Regions from separate parts of the Homo sapiens genome. Here region 2 is linked to region 1. Evidence: fine-mapped expression QTL. A gene starts in region 1. The other region holds a variant in brackets. All regions are shown on one strand. Distances are between the middles of the regions. Region 1 holds the start of MS4A15 (membrane spanning 4-domains A15). Region 2 overlaps LOC105369322 (a long non-coding RNA gene).

The links.
Region 2: its variant is fine-mapped to the expression of MS4A15 in lung (TOPMed, PIP 0.93).

The regions. Positions count from the first base shown.
Region 1 is chr11:60,752,231-60,760,562 of GRCh38, forward strand. It overlaps MS4A15 (membrane spanning 4-domains A15), which reads left to right and starts at 4,637. Exons shown (of 7, transcript NM_001098835.2): 1 at 4,637-4,828. RefSeq lists a silencer at 1,247-1,458.
Region 2 is chr11:60,821,189-60,829,520 of GRCh38, forward strand. All of the region lies in intron 2 of LOC105369322 (a long non-coding RNA gene), which reads right to left. Among named protein-coding and RNA genes, the nearest start is that of CCDC86, 17 kb to the right of the region's middle. The variant A/G (reference allele first, on the strand shown) is at 4,084.

The DNA of each region.
Region 1 (8,332 bases):
TGCAACTGGAAGGAAAATACTCGTCCTCTCTGAACTTCTGTTTTCTTATCTCTAAATCACACGTAATAATCCATGCCTGCCTCTCCCTTAGAGTGAGATGCGGGCTGTAAATGTTCATTATTACATCTGAGGAAGGGAAAGACCGATGGGCGGGGTGGGTCCCCCCTCACCCCAAGTTCTTCATTATTCTGCCATGTGTTTCTCTTGTCCAGTGTTCATGGACTCCCAGCCAAGGCAATCTCTAGCAATGTCCTCAGAAACTGTAGAGTCTCCCCAGATATGTCCATTTTGTGCTGCTATCACAGAATACCCAAGACTGGATAATTTATAAACTTCAGAAATGTATGCCTCACAGCTCTGGAGGCTGAGATGTCCAAGATCAAGGTGCCAGCAGATTTGGTGTCTGGTGAGAGCCCCATTCCTCACTTACTTCCGAGGTGGCGCTTTGTTGCGGCATCTTCCGTGGGGGACAAATGCTGTGTCTTCACATGATGGAAGGCATAAGGGCAAAAGGACCTAAGCTAGTTCCCTCTCTGCCTTTTATAAGGCATGAGTCTACTAATAAGGCAGAGCCCTCATGACTTAACCATTTTCCAAAAGGCCCCACCTCCTAATGCCATCACGATGGAGATTAAGTTTCAACATGAATTTTGGAGGGGACACATTCAAACCACAGAAGGTGGGGAAGAAGAAAGAGATTGAAGAAGAGAGAAAAAGGAAAGAGAAGGAGCGTGGGGCAAGGGAGATGGGGACAGCAGGGGAGCAGGCAGAGGACCCTTGTTTTGGGTCCACGTCCTCCCTGAAGACATCCCTGAGTTCCACAATCAGGAACCCTTCTCCCTCCCCCCACCGAGCCTCCTCTACCTTGCTAGTCTCTGAGAGCAGGACATCCAGCCTTAATTCATCGTTGCATTCCCAGTCCCTGAACTTGGTGCTCATAGTAAACACTTAACAATTGTTTGTTGGACTGAATTGCAAACTGCTCTTGCTCCTCCTACTAAACTCTAAGTCCTTTGAGGACATGGACTTTGTGTTTTACTCCTGTATGGATTCATTCTGGGAAAATATAACAATCAGGAGAAACTTAAGTTATGCTGCTATAACAAACAGCTGAGTGGCTTAACACAACAAAGGTTTATTTCTTCCTTCTGTTCTATGTCTCCTGGAGGCTCTGTTCACTCAGGGACCCAGATGGATAAGGCAGGCTCTGCCTGGAACACTGATAGTCACTGTGACAAAGGGAAAAAGAGCCCTGCAGAGTCACGTGCTGACACCTAAATGCTCCACCCAGAAGCTATGCGTTTACTTCCACTTGCATTGGTTTAACCAAAACAAGTCACGTGGCCATGCCAAACTTGAAGGCACCCAGAATGTAAGGGCTGGGAACAATAGGGAGATAACAGTTGTGTCTGGCACTGGAGACAGCAATAGGGGGCACAGATGCAGACTCTGCGGATGGCCAAACTTGGACTTGAATCCCAGCTCAGCCATTTCATGATATATCACCTTGAGCAAGTCCTTTCACTGCCCTGAACCGAGGTTATCACAGCCGTAAAAAAAACTTTCAGGAATTATCAAAGGACCATTGTGAGGATAAGAAATAACTTATTTGAAGTGCCTAGGAAAGAGCAAGTCCTCAAAAAATGTTTATGATAAGCTCTTATTAACCTGGCACCAGTGCAGAAACAATGTGGGGCTCTATCACTGTTAATTGGTTTAGAAAGTTCCAGAGAGGGCCAAGCGCAGTGGCTTGTACCTGTAATCCCAGCACTTTGGGAGACCAAGGTGGGTGGATCACCTGAGGTCAGGAGTTCAAGACCATCCTGGGCAGCATGGCCAAATCCTGTCTCTACTAAAAATACAAAAATTAGCTGGGCATGTTGGTGACGCCTACAGTCCTAGCTACTTGGGAGGCTAAGGCAGGAGAATTGCTTGAACCTGGGAGGTGGTGGTTGCAGTGAGCCCAGATTGCGCCATTGCACTCCAGCCTGGGTGACAGAGCAAGACTCCATCTCAAAAAAAAAAAAAAGAAAGTTCCAGAGAGGTGAGTGATGAGATAGGATCATTAGCAACATCATCTTGAAACCCTCCCCCAAAAGTGAACCCCAAAACATTCACAGCACCTCACCAATCTCCAAGGACTTTCTTACCATTTTCGACCCTCACAATAAACTGAGGCACAGTGAGCAGCCTTCAGTATCTTTATTTTTATTTTATGGAAATGTAGACTAGCTCAGTGCCATTTCACATTTTGCCCAAAATCACAGCAAATAATCAAGATAAACAACTAGGATAGGCAATATTTAGCAATGTCCTCAGAAACTATATAGTCTTTCCAAATACGTCCATTTTGTGCTGCTATAACAGAACACCTGAGACTGGGTAATTTATATAGAACAGAAATTTATGCCTCACAGTTCTGGAGGCTGAGACATGCAAGTTGAAGCAATAGCTAAAATTTAATGAGTGTTTACTATGTGCCAGGCAGTGTTCTAAGAATGGGGTTGGCAAATTACAGCCCACAGATCAGACCTGGCTCACCATCTGTTTCTGTAAATAAGTTTTTGTTTTGTTTTGTTTGAGACAAGTTCTCACTCTGTCACTCAGGCTGCAGTGCAGGGGCGCAGTCTCAGGTCACTGCAGCCTTGACCTCCGGGGCTCAAGAGATCCTCCCACCTCAGCCTCACGAGCAGCTGCGACATGTGTGTGCCACCACACCTGGCTATTTTTTTGTATTTTTTTTTGGTAGGGGTGAGGTTTCACCATGTTGCCCAGGCTGGTCTCAAACTCCTGAGCTCAACCAATCTGCCCACCTCAGCCTGCCAAAGTGCTGGGATTACAGACATGAGCCACTGCACCCAGGCATAAATAAAGTTTTATTGGAACACAGCCACACCCATTTGGGTATATATTGCCTATGTCTGCTTTGCACTACAATGGAAGAGTCACGTGTTTGCAATCGAAGTTATATGGGTCCCCAAAGCCCAAAATATTTACTATCTGATTCTCTCTTTTTTTTTTTTTCTTTTGAGATGGAGTCGCGCTCTGTCACCCAGGCTGGAGCGCAGTGGCGCGATCTCGGCTTACTGCAAGCTCCGCCTCCCAGGTTCACACCATTCTCCTGCCTCAGCCTCCCGAGACTACAGGCACCCGCCAACACGCCCGGCTAATTTTTTGTATTTTTAGTAGAGACAGGGTTTCACCATATTAGCCAGGATGGTCTCAATCTCCTGACCTTGTGATCCACCCGTCTTGGCCTCCCAAAGTGCTGGGATTACAGCCGTGAGCCGCCGTGCCCGGCCTACTATCTGATTCTTGAAAAAAGTTTGCCAACCCTGCTCTGAGTAGTTGTCATGTCTACTAATAATCAGGTTAGTGTCAGATCCTGGAAATGAGAGACTCAGTGGAGACGGTGCTATTTGGGAAGTCACAGCACAATCCCTCTGGTGATCCACTCTGAGCATCACGTGTTGGTCACACCTCCTAGGCTGAAGGGAGCCATGTTAGTAAGCCCTTAAAAATGTCAAATGGCTTCCCCCACCCCTTAATGCCAGCAGATTCTTATCCTGTGTTTTCTCAGCCATCTCCTTGGAGGTGCCTCCAGTCACTGAAAACCTTGCTCAAGAGCCTATGTGTCCTTTTCGCTCTATTTCTCTGCATAGGGTCCAACGCTGTCCCTTGCCCCCTTTGTTCACCAATATAGGTCAGACCTATCACAAAATAAATGGCACAGAGGCTTCCTGAAGACACACATATTTTGAGCACAGAACAGTGAGGCTGAGCCCTTATCAGCCAAGAGCGCTTGCAGAACCACAGAGAATCTGCTGCACAATCTGCAAGCTGGTGCTCTCCCGAGCATGCATAGTAGGTCTCAGAGCACTGGGAAGCAATGCACATCCACGGTCCATTGTAAGTCACTGGCTTAGATATGTTATATTTAACAAAACATCTCAGCCGCATCGTGTTATAACAAGTCACGTTGTAAGGGATGGATTTTATCAAGTTGGTGTGTGTTTCCCACCAAACTCTATGAGATTGGTATTATCCCTATTTCACAGGTAAGGAAACTGAGGCAGAGGGTGACCCTCTCGCTCCCGTGCCTCACAGTAACAAGAGGAGCCAGAATTCAAACCCTGGCTTCTATCTCAGACCCTTACACTGAACTGGTAAACTCCTCACACACCCATGCCAACAAGAAGGATGACTGTTTTCGATCTCATTGTATAATCTGGCAGATTCAGCACTCTGTTGTTTCCTGGTAAGCTCATCTCCTGACACCTGGGTAATGGGTGTTTTTTCCCAAAGTGTTTGCCCAGGCCAGCCACACCTAAAGTGTTGGGGTACATGGCAACATATCCAAGCTTATGTACGTGGCATTTGAGGTCAGGGCATGGAAAAATACGGAGGCACTGTGTGTATGTTATTTGTGCATAAGAATGTAACTCCTTGGCCCTAAAAACAGGACAAGGAGTGAAGTGTGTCATAAGGAACGCTGAAAACAGCCTCCTAAGAATGTGGTTTGAGAGCTTTTGCAAGGCCGCAGGTGTCTCATGACCCCACCTCAAAAAGCCATCTAGTGGATGTTTGTGGTTTAACAATCCCTTTCAATAAATACTTGGCGGACAGATGCTAGGGCAGGCTCTCACAAGGGCGGGCTCTCAGAAGAGCTGCCCCCACCCCCTCTCCCAGCCCCCTTCAGCTGAAATTGTCTAAGAACTCATTCTTGGCGTTCACTGCAAGCTATAAGCTCTGCAAGTGGTGACCCCGACGTGATCGCCTTGAAGTTACGCTTGAAGGAGGAAAACTCATCAATTTTCGGGGAATCCCGGTAAGGGACAGTCCTGACTCCCGTCAGGAGGATGGGACCCACGCGTAAAATATCAGGGGTTGGATTATCATGGGTCAAGAAATGACCAAAGAACAGAAAGTGTTTTTTAAAAACAGTGCGACAGCTACTTAAGGCTAACCAGTGCACTGCAGAGCCTGGAGCTCTACACAACGCTATGATCTTAATTCGGCAGGAATGCCCTTGGTTTCCTGATCAAGGAACCTTAGACTTGAGTTATGGAGCAGGTAGGTCACTGCCTGAAAACAGGATGTGAGCAAGGTCATTTTACTGAGGTTATTGTTTTGACCACCTGGGCGCCGGTACACTCGGTGTTGTATCCTCTTTATCTGCCAGATTGCAGTGGGTCAGACCGCCCGTCTTTGCCTGAAGGGAATTCAGGAGGTTTAAAGGAGAAGGAAGAACAGGAGCCAACCAGGACAGCGGGAGGCGGGCGGGGGGTCCTCTCTCTACTTCATTCCCTTCTGTAGGGCATAAGGAGGATATTTTTTTCTAGTGATCATGAGGACGGACCGGAGCCTTTTCCTCCCCCTATAGAAAAGCCATTGCCCTCTTTTCCTCCACCCTTAAAGGGACCTGTATTCGTTGGCCCCGTTCAGGCAATGGCGCCTCCCATCCCCCTTGAGGAGTCTGGAGGCCGCCCAAGAGATGGTTCTTGGATAAGACCTCCAGTCAGTGAATATCTATATGATCGGGTGGCCGTGTCCTCAACGCCAACTCCTCGTCAAACTTTCTTAGTAGAGGGGTGCCTCCAAGAGGGACTTAGGAAGGGAGACTCTGAGGCGCTTTTTGGCGCATTCCCTGTTATTGTTCAAAGCAACAGGAGATGGCATGAGAGTTTGCCTTTTACTGTCTTTAAAGAGTTAAAGAAAAGTATCCGTGAAAACAGTGTACATTCACCGTTTACGAAGGAGGTGATTGAGGCTCTGGGAAATGGCTATAAGATGACTCCACATGATTGGAAAACTTTGGTAAATGTTTTGGTTTCAGCTGCAGAATATACTGTGTGGTGGAGTGAGTACAGTGATTTAGCCATGCAGCAGTCCTTGCAAAATTTGGATAATAATATCCCGATACAACTTGATATGCTATTGGGAACAGGGCCTTTTGCTTCAGCTCAGACTCAGGGTCAAGCAGGTGGCCATCTATTTCCTCAATGCTCACAGCTAGCAATACAAACATAAAAAAAAAAAATCCCGTAAGACAATCCCAGGGTTCCTTTATAACAGTTAAACAAGGTGCCACAGAAACATACATTAAATTTATCAACCGACTGCAAGCTGCAATTGAAAAACAGGTATCCCATCCTAAGGCTACCAAACTTCTTATGTTACAATTGGCTTTTGAAAAAGCAAATAAGGATTGTCAGACAGCAATAACTCCAGTCTAAGCCACTGCCACTGAAATCAGTGTGTTTATTAAAGCATGCCAAAATATAGGCACTACAACTCATCTGACTCAAACTTTTGCTGCAATAATGACCGGAACCACATATTGTAATTGTGACCTAACCAGGCATATGGCAAAAATAACCCTGCTACTGTTTTCCTACCTTTAAGCAAAAAACAATTTCATACTCTTCTAGCTTGTGCTCTTGATTGGCAAATCGCAATAGCTGACTTTATTGGTAATATCAGCTTTCATTTACCAGCCTCTAAGCTCCTGAACTTTTTACAAACTGTGCCTGTTAAATTTGTATCTATTGTTGTTTCTGAGCCCTTGCTTCATGCCACTACTGTCTTTACAGATGGTTTAGGAAAAACTGGAAGAGCAGCTACAGTGTGGCAATAGGCCATGCAAAAATGGCAGCACAAAATCCAGGAACATTTTAAAACCACGCAACAGGCAGAGTTAGGTGCCCTGATATTGGCCTTACAAACTTTTCCTCACCAAGACATAAACATAGTTAGTGATTCCGCTTATGCGGTGTGTAGTATTACTCATTTAGATCTTGCACATGTGAAGGGCATTACTAATGAACCCCTACTAGCTTTGTTTCTTGCAGCGTAAGAGCTCCTCTGTGACCATCATTGTGGGGAAAAGAAAGAGAGATCAGACTGTTACTGTGCCTATGTAGAAAAGGAAGACAAAAGAAACTCCATTTTGATCTGTACAAAGAAAAATTGTTATGCTTTGAGACGCTGTTAACCTGTAACTTTAGCCCCAACCCTGTGCTCACAGAAACATGTGCTGTACTGAATCAAGGTTTAAGGGATTTAGGGGTATGCAGGATGTGCCTTGTTAACTATATGTTTGCAGACAGTATGCTTGGTAAAAGTCATCGCCATTCTCCATTCTCTATTAACCAGGGACACGATGCACTGCGGAAAGCCGCAGGGACCTCTGCCCAAGAAAGCCTGGGTGTTGTCCAAGGTTTCCCCCGACTGAGACAGCCCGAGATATGGCCTCGTGGGATTGGAAAGACCTTACCATCCCCTAGCCCGACACCCGTAAAGGGTCTGTGCTGAGGAGGATTAGTAAAAGAGGAAGGCCTCTTTGTGGTTGAGATAAGAGGAAGTCCTCTGTTTCCCACATGTCCCTGGGAATGGAATGTCTCGGTGTAAAGCCGACTATTCGTTCTATTCTGAGATAGGAGAAAACTGCCCTGTGGCTGGAGGCGAGATATGCTGGCAGCAATACTGCTCTGTTACTCTTTACTAACTGAGATGTTTGGGTAAAGAGAAACATAAATCTAGCCTACGTGCACATCTGGGCACAGTACCTTCCCTTGAACTTATTTATGATGCAGATTCCCTTACTCACATGTTTTCCTGCTGACCTTCTCCCCACCATCACCCTGTTCACCCTGTTCTTCTGCCGCACCCCCCATGCCAAGATAGTGAAAATAGTAATCAATAAACCCTGAGGGAACTCGGAGACCGGCGCCGGTGCAGTTCCTCGCATGCTGAGTGTGCCGGACCCCTGGGCCCACCGTTCTTTCTCTGTACTTTGTGTCTTATTTCTTTTCTCAGTCTCTTGTCTCCACCTGACGAGAAATACCCACAGGTGTGGAGGGGCAAGCCCCCTTCGATCATCACCCTCTTTACATCACACATATTCACTCTCATTCTGGGCTACCTGGTCCCTTATCAGAAGGGAACGCTCGAGCTAATGCTCTGGTACACACACAGATGTGGTTTGCAGACTCTCCTGCTTTTTTGCGAATTCAAGCTGATCATGCTTTTTTTCCATCAGAACGCCTGCAGTCTTAAACAACAGTTTCATTTAACACTTGCTCAAGCTCACATGATTATTAAAACTTATCCTGATTGCCAATGGCATTCTCTTTCCCCTTTTTCCTTAGGACTTGGTGCCAACCCACGAGGTCTGGTGCCTAATGCTATCTGGCAAACTGATGTTACTCAGTATCCACCCTTTGGACGTTTTAAATCTCTCCATGTTACTGTGGACACTTATATAGACCTAATACATGCTATCCCCATGCCGGAGAAAAAACTAAAGATGCAGTTGCTCATTTGTTTGAAT
Region 2 (8,332 bases), 69 kb after region 1:
CCCAGCCAGGCACTGGAATCCTAGCTCCTCCGTTCTCTGCATGTGTGGCTCTGGGTCCCAGTTTTGAAAATGAGGTCTCTTTTACCTTGCCGTTGAGCACGAAACGATGGGAGGAGCGGAGCCTGCTGGGAGAAGCTACTCCTCTTGGGTGACAGAGAGGTGGAGTGTTGAGGGTGAGGTCAAAGTGCTGCTCTCAGGTCAGAGAAGCCTATTTGAGACAAATGATCGCAAACTTCTGGGCTTCAGCCTAGGCTGAGTCAACCCTGTGCCCTGGAAGGACAGGCTTGCATGTGCGGTATGGAGGCTTAGGGAACATGGGCAGAGGCAGGCTCCGATCCCACTCTGAGACCCCAGCTTCGTCCCTAGAATGCCATGAGCAGGGTGCTGCTCCATTCATGGGTGTGGTGAGAGCTAAATGACTTGGTGCACAGAGCAAGCTCGGTGCACTCAGGGCCAGCACCTTGGAGGTAACCAATGTGTTGGGCTTGATGCCTGAGATGGCCCTCACCCAAGCTTTCTAGGGTTCTGCAATCCTGCGGTGCCCCTGGGACGAAGAGGCCTGGTTCTGCGCCTGCCCTCACTGGCTGGGGAAGTTGGCAAGGTTCTTATTCTCTCCAGGCCTCTGTTTTCTTGGCTGCCAAGGAAGGAGGTGGATGGGGAGTTTGTCTAAGATCCTTTTCGGCAGAGACATGTGCACAGAGACCTGCCCAGCCACTCAAGTCCTGGGAGACACAGCCCCAACCCCGAAAGCCCAAGGCTTTAGCTCTGCGCCCTCCCCCCTCCACCCCCAGGCCCTGCAGATCATTATCAGCTGCTGGCAACTGGTGGCTGGCAGGTTGGGGGGCGGGCCGCATCCTGGCTGCCTCCTCGAGCTCCACCGAGTTCCCCACCACTTACTTGTACCCGCTGGCAGGAGGAGTGCTCCTGAGGACCCTGGAGATCCCACTTGGTGGTGGCCCAGAGACAGAGAGGACTGCAAAGACCAGGACTGCAGATCCTCCCTGCACCCTTGGGAGGGAGTTTGAGTCTGTGAAGTGGGAGTGAAGCTGCAGGGGGTGGAACTGTTCTGAGCTCGAGGGGAAGTTCCAGGCCCACCCCACATGGGATTGGATGGCCCAGGGGAGGCACTGGGCTGTTGAGGCGGCCAGCTAAAGAGCTGAAGCTGGTTCACAGCGTGTGGTGGGGGGAGTCGTGGCAAAGGGCCTCTGCCCCAATATATGCAGCCGAGGAAGGAGAAAGGTGGTGTCCCTGGGGACTTACCCCGAGGGTAACACTCAAGTCAAGGCGCTCAGCCACTACAATGAAACAAAAGCCCCTGGGACTTGATTTCTAGATCCAGATCTATCACTTAGCAGCCCTGTGACTTAGGCAGGTTGCCTCCTTCTCTCAGTCTTAGTTTCTCCATCTTCAAAATGAGAGACTAGTCCCTCCCACCTCCAAGCATGGGCCAGAGACCAGCATCTTTGGCATCACCTGGGAGCTTGTTAGAAATGCAGAGTCTCAGGCCAGCTCCAGTGGCTCAAGCCTGCAATCCCAGAGCTTTGGGAGGCTGAGGGGAGGATCTCTTGAGGCAAGGAGTTTGAGAACACCTGAGCAACATAGCACGACCTTGTCTCTACTAAAAATAAAAAATGTTGATATGCAACAAGATATAAAAAAGGAAAAAAAAATTAAAAAGGAAAACTAGCTGGGTATGGTGGTACATACCTGTAGTCCCAGCTACTCAGGAGGCTGAGGCAGGAGGTTCACTTGAGCCCAGGAGTTGGAGGCTGCAGTGAGCTATGATGGTGCCACTGCATTCCAGCCTGGGCCAGAGAGCAAGACCCTGTCTCTTAAAAAAAAAAATGCAGGCCAGGCATGGTGACTCACGCCTGTAATCCCAGCACTTTGGCAGGCCGAGGCGGGCAGGATCACGAGGTCAAGAGATCAAGACCATCCTGGCCAACATGGAGAAACTCCATCTCTACTAAAAATATAAAAATTAGCTGGGCATGGTGACACAGACCTGTAGTCTCAGCTACTTAGGAGGCTGAGGCAGGAGAATCGCTTGAACCTGGGAGGCAGAGGTTGCAGTGAGACGAGATTGCGCCACTGCACTCCAGCCTGGCGACAGAGCAAGAGGGAGACTCCATCTCAAAAAAAAAATTAAAAATAAAAATAAATAAATAAATAAATAAATAAATGCAGAATTTAAGCCCCACCGTACACGGGCTGAGTCAGTCTGCAGCTTAACAAGATCCCTAGGCGCTCATGTCCTCTGTCAAGTTTGAAAAGTACTGGACCAGTTACCTAGGAATCTTTCGGGCATTCCCGGCTAATTTTTGTATTTTTAGTAGAGACAGGGTTTCGCCACGTTGGCCAGGCTGGTCTTAAACTCCTGACCTCAGGTGATCTGCCTGCCTTGGCCTCCCAATGTGCTGGGATTACAGGCATGAGCCACCATGCCCGGCAGGTACCTAGGAATCTTTAGTGGCCCCCTTCTAAAATCCTATCTCACCAACCTATGCAGAGCCCAGTGGGGAGGACTAGATGCCTTTCTCTGTTCCCATAAGCCCCATTACTCCCTGTTGTCAGGCCTCTGAGCCCAAGCTAAGCCATCATTTTCCCTGTGACCTGCATGTATACATCCAGATGGCCTGAAGCAACTGAAGATCCACAAAAGAAGTGAAAATAGTCTTAACTGATGACATTCCACCATTGTGATTTGTTCCTGCCCCACCCTAACTGACACAATATATTCTCCCCTGCCCTTAAGAAGGTACTTTGTAATATTCAAAGTACCACTTTGTAATATTCAAAGTACCCTTAAGAAGGTACTTTGTAATATTCAAAGTACCCTTAAGAAGGTACTTTGTAATATTCAAAGTACCCTTAAGAAGGTACTTTGTAATATTCAAAGTACCCTTAAGAAGGTACTTTGTAATATTCAAAGTACCCTTAAGAAGGTACTTTGTTCGCCTATCCCAAACCTGTAAGAACTAATGATAATCCCACCACCCTTTACTGACTCCTTTTTCGGACTCAGCCCACCTGCACCTGGGTGAAATAAACAGCCTTGTTGCTCACACAAAGCCTGTTTGATGGACTCTCTTCACACGGACGCGCATGACACTTGGTACATGGCCCACTGTGCCAAGCCATAAATGCTCATGGCAAACCTTCCCTGCATTAGGGTTTCCAGGAGGCAGGTGCCTCTGGGCTCCCTGAGACCATCAATCTCCCTGCCTCTCTGTGCAGTTCTTAGTTTCAGGAGCAACCACCCTGGTCATCTCAGCAAACTGCACAGTTCCCCGGGTGAGTTTCATAGACATTTCTTCTGCCTCTGGGCACAGCTTATCCTGGAAGACCTTATATGAAAGTGGATGCTTGTGGGGCCTTTCCACAGGATGGTGGGCGAGTAGGGAGTGGGCCTTTGTCCGCAATCCTACTCACTGGCAGGTCTGAGCTCCTGACCATCCTCCTGTCCTATAGAAGCTTCCTGTATCTAATTTGAGTCTGTTTCTAGTCTCCTCTCCTTTACCACAGCTCCTCCATGCCTTTAATACAGCCTGGACCTCAGCAAGTCACCCCTAATCGGATAGGTTGCATGCAGACCCAAATGGCATTAAACTTGCTGGACCTCCTGGTTCGACCTCCAGAAAGGGGACTCCATCCCCACCAGAGCCGTCTGTTTTGAACCTAGGAAACTAGAATCCTAGGGCTGCTGTAACCAATTACCACACACCAGGTAGCTTAAAACAACAGAAACATGGCCGGGCCTGGTAGCTCATGCCTGTAATCCCAGCACTTTGGGAGGCCGAGGCAGGCGGATCACTTGAGGTCAGGAGTTCGAGACCAGCCTGGCCAACATGATGAAACCCCGCCTCTACTAAAAATACAAAAATTAGCCAGGCGTGGTGGCAGTTGCCTGTAATCCCAGCTACTCGGGAGACTGAGGCAGGAGAATTGCTTAAGCCCAGGAGGCAGAGGTTGCAGTAAGCTTAGATCGTGCCTGGGCAAGAGTGAGACTCCATCTCAAGAAAAAAAAAAAAAAGAAAGAAAACAGAAACCTGTAGTCTATGATTCTGGAGGCTGGAAGCCCAA[A/G]GTCAAGGTGCTGGCAGGATCGAGTTCTCTCTGAAGGCTCTTGGGGATAATGCTTTCTGGCCTCGTCCCAGCTTCCAGTGGTTGCTGGCAACTCTTGGTGTTCCTTGGCTCGTAGACACATCCTGCCAGTCTCTGCCTCTGTCATCAGGGGCTGTTCTCCCTGTGTCCCTTCCCTTCTTCTAAGGACACCAGTCATAATCCATTATGACCTCATCTTAACTCGATTACATCTGCAAAGACCCTATTTCCAAATAGATCCCATTCACAGGTACCAGGGTTAAGACTTCAACATATCTTTTGGGGGGATACAATTCAACCCACAAAAGATGGCAAATAGCTTTTCTATCGATGCGGCCCTGGTGGGTTCTGAGGATTGATGGATGTTGTCTGCCATGGACTTTGCAGGAAGAAGTGGCCACACATGTTGCTGTCTGTGCTCCTGCAACAAATCCATCTCCTGGCTATTAAGGCTGACATAGCCTCTGTGGCCCATGGGCTCCAGCAGGTGGAGCAGAGATGCTGTCACCTTGGTCACTGGTTCCTGGCTCCTAGGGCAAGTCAGTGGTTCCTCCAGGATCAAAAGCGTGCAAAGGAAGCCCGCAACACAGAGGGCATGTGAGCCAGCACTCTCCCCTTCCCGCTGGGTAGTAACTCGGGCTCCGGTCTCCTTAGCAGGTGAAGGTCAGCACAGGGCCAAACCTGGTCAGCTCACTGTGTGCCAGCCTCGGGGTGTGTGCCTTCATGGTTGAGCTGGCTGCCAGCAACAACTATACCCAGATCAGTGTCTCAGGCCCAGAGAATAAGCATCCACTCTTTGGGCACCATTTAATCCTAGAAACCACCACCAAGAGATATTTTCTTATCCTCTATTGTCAAAGTTAAAATGGGGAGTGGGATTTTTTTTTTCTTTAAATACAGACAGAGCCTCGCTAACTTGCTCATGCTGTCCTCAAACTCCTGGGCTCCAGCGATTCTCCTGCCTAAGCCTCCTGAGTGGCTGGGACTCCAGGCAGGTACCATGACACCCAGCTTTTGGGAGTAGGGTTTAAGTGTTTAGCAATTACCTCCAGATTCCCTGAGGCAGAACTCCACCAGGATTTGACAGCCCCAGGTACTTCCCTCTGGACTAGTTTTTCCTGTGTTAATGCTGATGTGGTGGCTCTTTAGGAGGCCAAGGCGGGAGGATCGCTTGAACCCAGGAGTTTGAGACTAGCCTGAGAAACATGGTGAGGCCCACTCTCAACCAAAAATATTTTTTTGAAAAAAATTAGCCAGGTATGTTGGTGCAGGCCTGTAGTCCCAGCTACTTGGAAGGCTGAAGTGGGAGGATTGCTTGAGCCCATGAGTTCAAGGCTGCGGTGAGTTATAATCATGCCACTGCACTCCAGCCTGGGTAACAGAGTGAGCCCCTGTTTCTTAAAAAAAATAATAATCATTTGCTTGGAGGAAGATATTCCAGCTGCTTGCCTCCTACCAAGGACGTTCCCCTGTAAGAGCATAGAGGTCAAGGGTGCATTAGGAGGACTGCCAGCATAATAATACCTAAGATTTATCAGTGAGTCCTGCCTTCTGGCTGTGGCCATTGAGGTCACATCTTTTCAAAGACATGTGATTATGTCATGAGATTGCTACCAGGGACCTGGACGTGGCAAAAATGGGGCTGGGAATACTGGGGGAGGAGTTTCCTCTGCTCTCATCCTAGGGAAAGAGAGGAAAGGAGAAACACTCTCTTCAGGTGGGTCTGACACACCATGCAGGGGCGAGGGACACACTGCCCACTGCTGCCCACACTTTGACCACTTCAGTGACCCAGCTGCCCCAGAATCCCCGACCTTCCCCTGTAGCCTGGGGTCCCTGAACGGCCCCAAGACTCAACTTCCTGCCCGTGACCTCACGTGAAACTGATCTTCACCCAGCCCCTCTCTGTGCTTTCCTTATCAGTAGAGGACAAATCATTCCTCCTAGGCCCCCACGACCCTAGTCCACTGTGTTCACCTTCCCTAGCTGCTCTCTCCTCCATCCATGCCTCTCCCTCTCCTCTGGTCCAGAAACTCAAGTCCCGGAGACCCCGTGTCCCTCTCTGACTGTGGTCTCCCCTCTCTTCCCTTTCACAGCAACAATCTCCTACGGACTCCATCTCCTCCTCTCCCGTCTCTACAGACCTCAAGCCCTCTCAGGGCAGCCGCCAGTAGCTTACTGCCAAATACATGCTTTTCCATGTATTTTCTTACTTGACCTTTCTGTACTTTTTTGCTGATGGGTGTCAGTCTGAATGGTTGACCACATGGGTCTTGGAATTGGATGGGTCTGAATCCCAGCTTTCACATACCAGCTGTGTGGCTTTGGACAAGTACCTCAATTTTTCTGAACCTCTGTTTCATCCTCTGTGAAATGGGGCTAATCAGAGTAGCTATCTAATAAGGCAACTAAGATTAAAATAAGCACGTAACAGGTGCTCACTAGATGACAGGTCACTCCCCTTCTAGAAAGCTTCCCTTCTTTTATCCATCTCCTTGGTCAGAATCTGCAGACTGATTCCGGGACTGGCTGGCCTGTAAAACTGCCCAGTTTTTGCAGGCTTTGCACCCTGGTTTTGCAGGTGCCCTGGAAGAGTCTCTCGGTGCTGCTGCTGTTCTTCACCATCCTGGCACTAGGCATCGCCTTCTTGTCTACCTTCCTGGGCTTCCATGCCACCTTCTGCTACACCCAGCTGGTGAGTGGGTTGGCAAGGTCTCTGCAGGACAGGCAGGCCCTCACTCGATCCCCAGAGCCTGGACAGGGGAGCCGAGGGAGGAGGGACAACAAGAGGGCTGTGTGGGGAGTGGCAGGCAGAACCCCTCCTGCCATCCTAAACCATCTGTACCATGGCCGTGCTGAGCCCCACTTGGTCTACACTGGGGAGATGCTGTCTTGAAGGACATGTGAGAACAGGGAGGTGGCTAGGGAAGAAGATGTTTACAAAAGCTTATAGCTCAGCACCAAGGTAGAACTGACTAGGACAAGTGCCGCATGGTGCCGCCAGATTCTGGTGGTGGCAGCCGATGCTGCAGGAAGGAAGGGCAGCGGTGAGGCTTCTGGATCCTGGCTGACAACTATAGCCTTACATGCGCTGGGAGACGGTGGTTACAGCAGCTCCCTCCATCAAGGGGCTTCCACAAGCTCCTTCCCCCGACCCTCATGACAGGCCTGAAGGGGCAGGGAAGAGACTGACCACGTGTCACAGATGAGGAAACTGAGGCCCAGAGAACTAAGGTGACCTGGCTGAGATCACATCCATCCCCAGAATCCAGGTACGACTCCCGGGCAACCTTCTCCTCAGGGAAGACCAGAGCTACAAGAAGGACTCAGCCCAAAGCACAAGGTCTGGGGGCTCAGGCTACCACCACGTGGTCTGTGGAGGGCTGTGGGCAGAGAGGAAAGCCTGGATCGCCAGAGAAAGCACAGAAGGAAAACCTAAAAGGATCACAGGGTCACATGGGCTGCTTCTGGGCTGACTAAAGGCGAGTGGCCTTGGCCCTTCCTTCTTCTCCCGACTCCAGTACCTGAACCCAGCTCAGGAACTTCCCACGGCCACAGCAGCCACTCCCAGGATCCACCCACCAGGCCCCACAGCCCCCAGCCACAGCCTGCACTCAAGGCATCTGCTGATCCTGGGAGCTGAGCTCCTCCCAGCATCTGACCTCTGGGGCTCTGCGATCTTCCCCTTCTCCTGGCTGCAGGGTTGGCCTTCCCTTTGTAACACCCAGCCCCAGAGGTCACTACCCCCATCCTCATACACACCCCAGCATGGAGATGGGTCTGCTCTTTCTGTCTAAGAAACATCCCTCAATGTCGCTGTTTTGCTGTCAACAAAAAGTTGACATGTGGCTTGGGTCACATCCACCAGGATTTAGTGACTAAAGTTGCATATCTTGTCCGTGTGTGTGCACAGCAGGGACCCTAGGTGTCTCACGTCTGTATGTGTGGATGGACAAGTATCCACCTGTTCCCCCACTTAATGGATTTGTTACTGGAAACCCTGCTGCTAAGTGAGAAGCTGTTAAATAAAAATATTTTCATGAATGCGGCCAGGCACAGTGGCTCACGCTTGTAATCCCAGCACTTTGGGAGACCGAGGCAGGCAGATCACTTAAAGTCAGGAATTCGAGACCAGCCTGGCCTACATGGCAAAACCTCGTCTCTACAAAAAATACACAAGTTAGCCAGGCATGGTGGCGCACGCCTGTAATTCCAGCTACTCAGAAGGCTG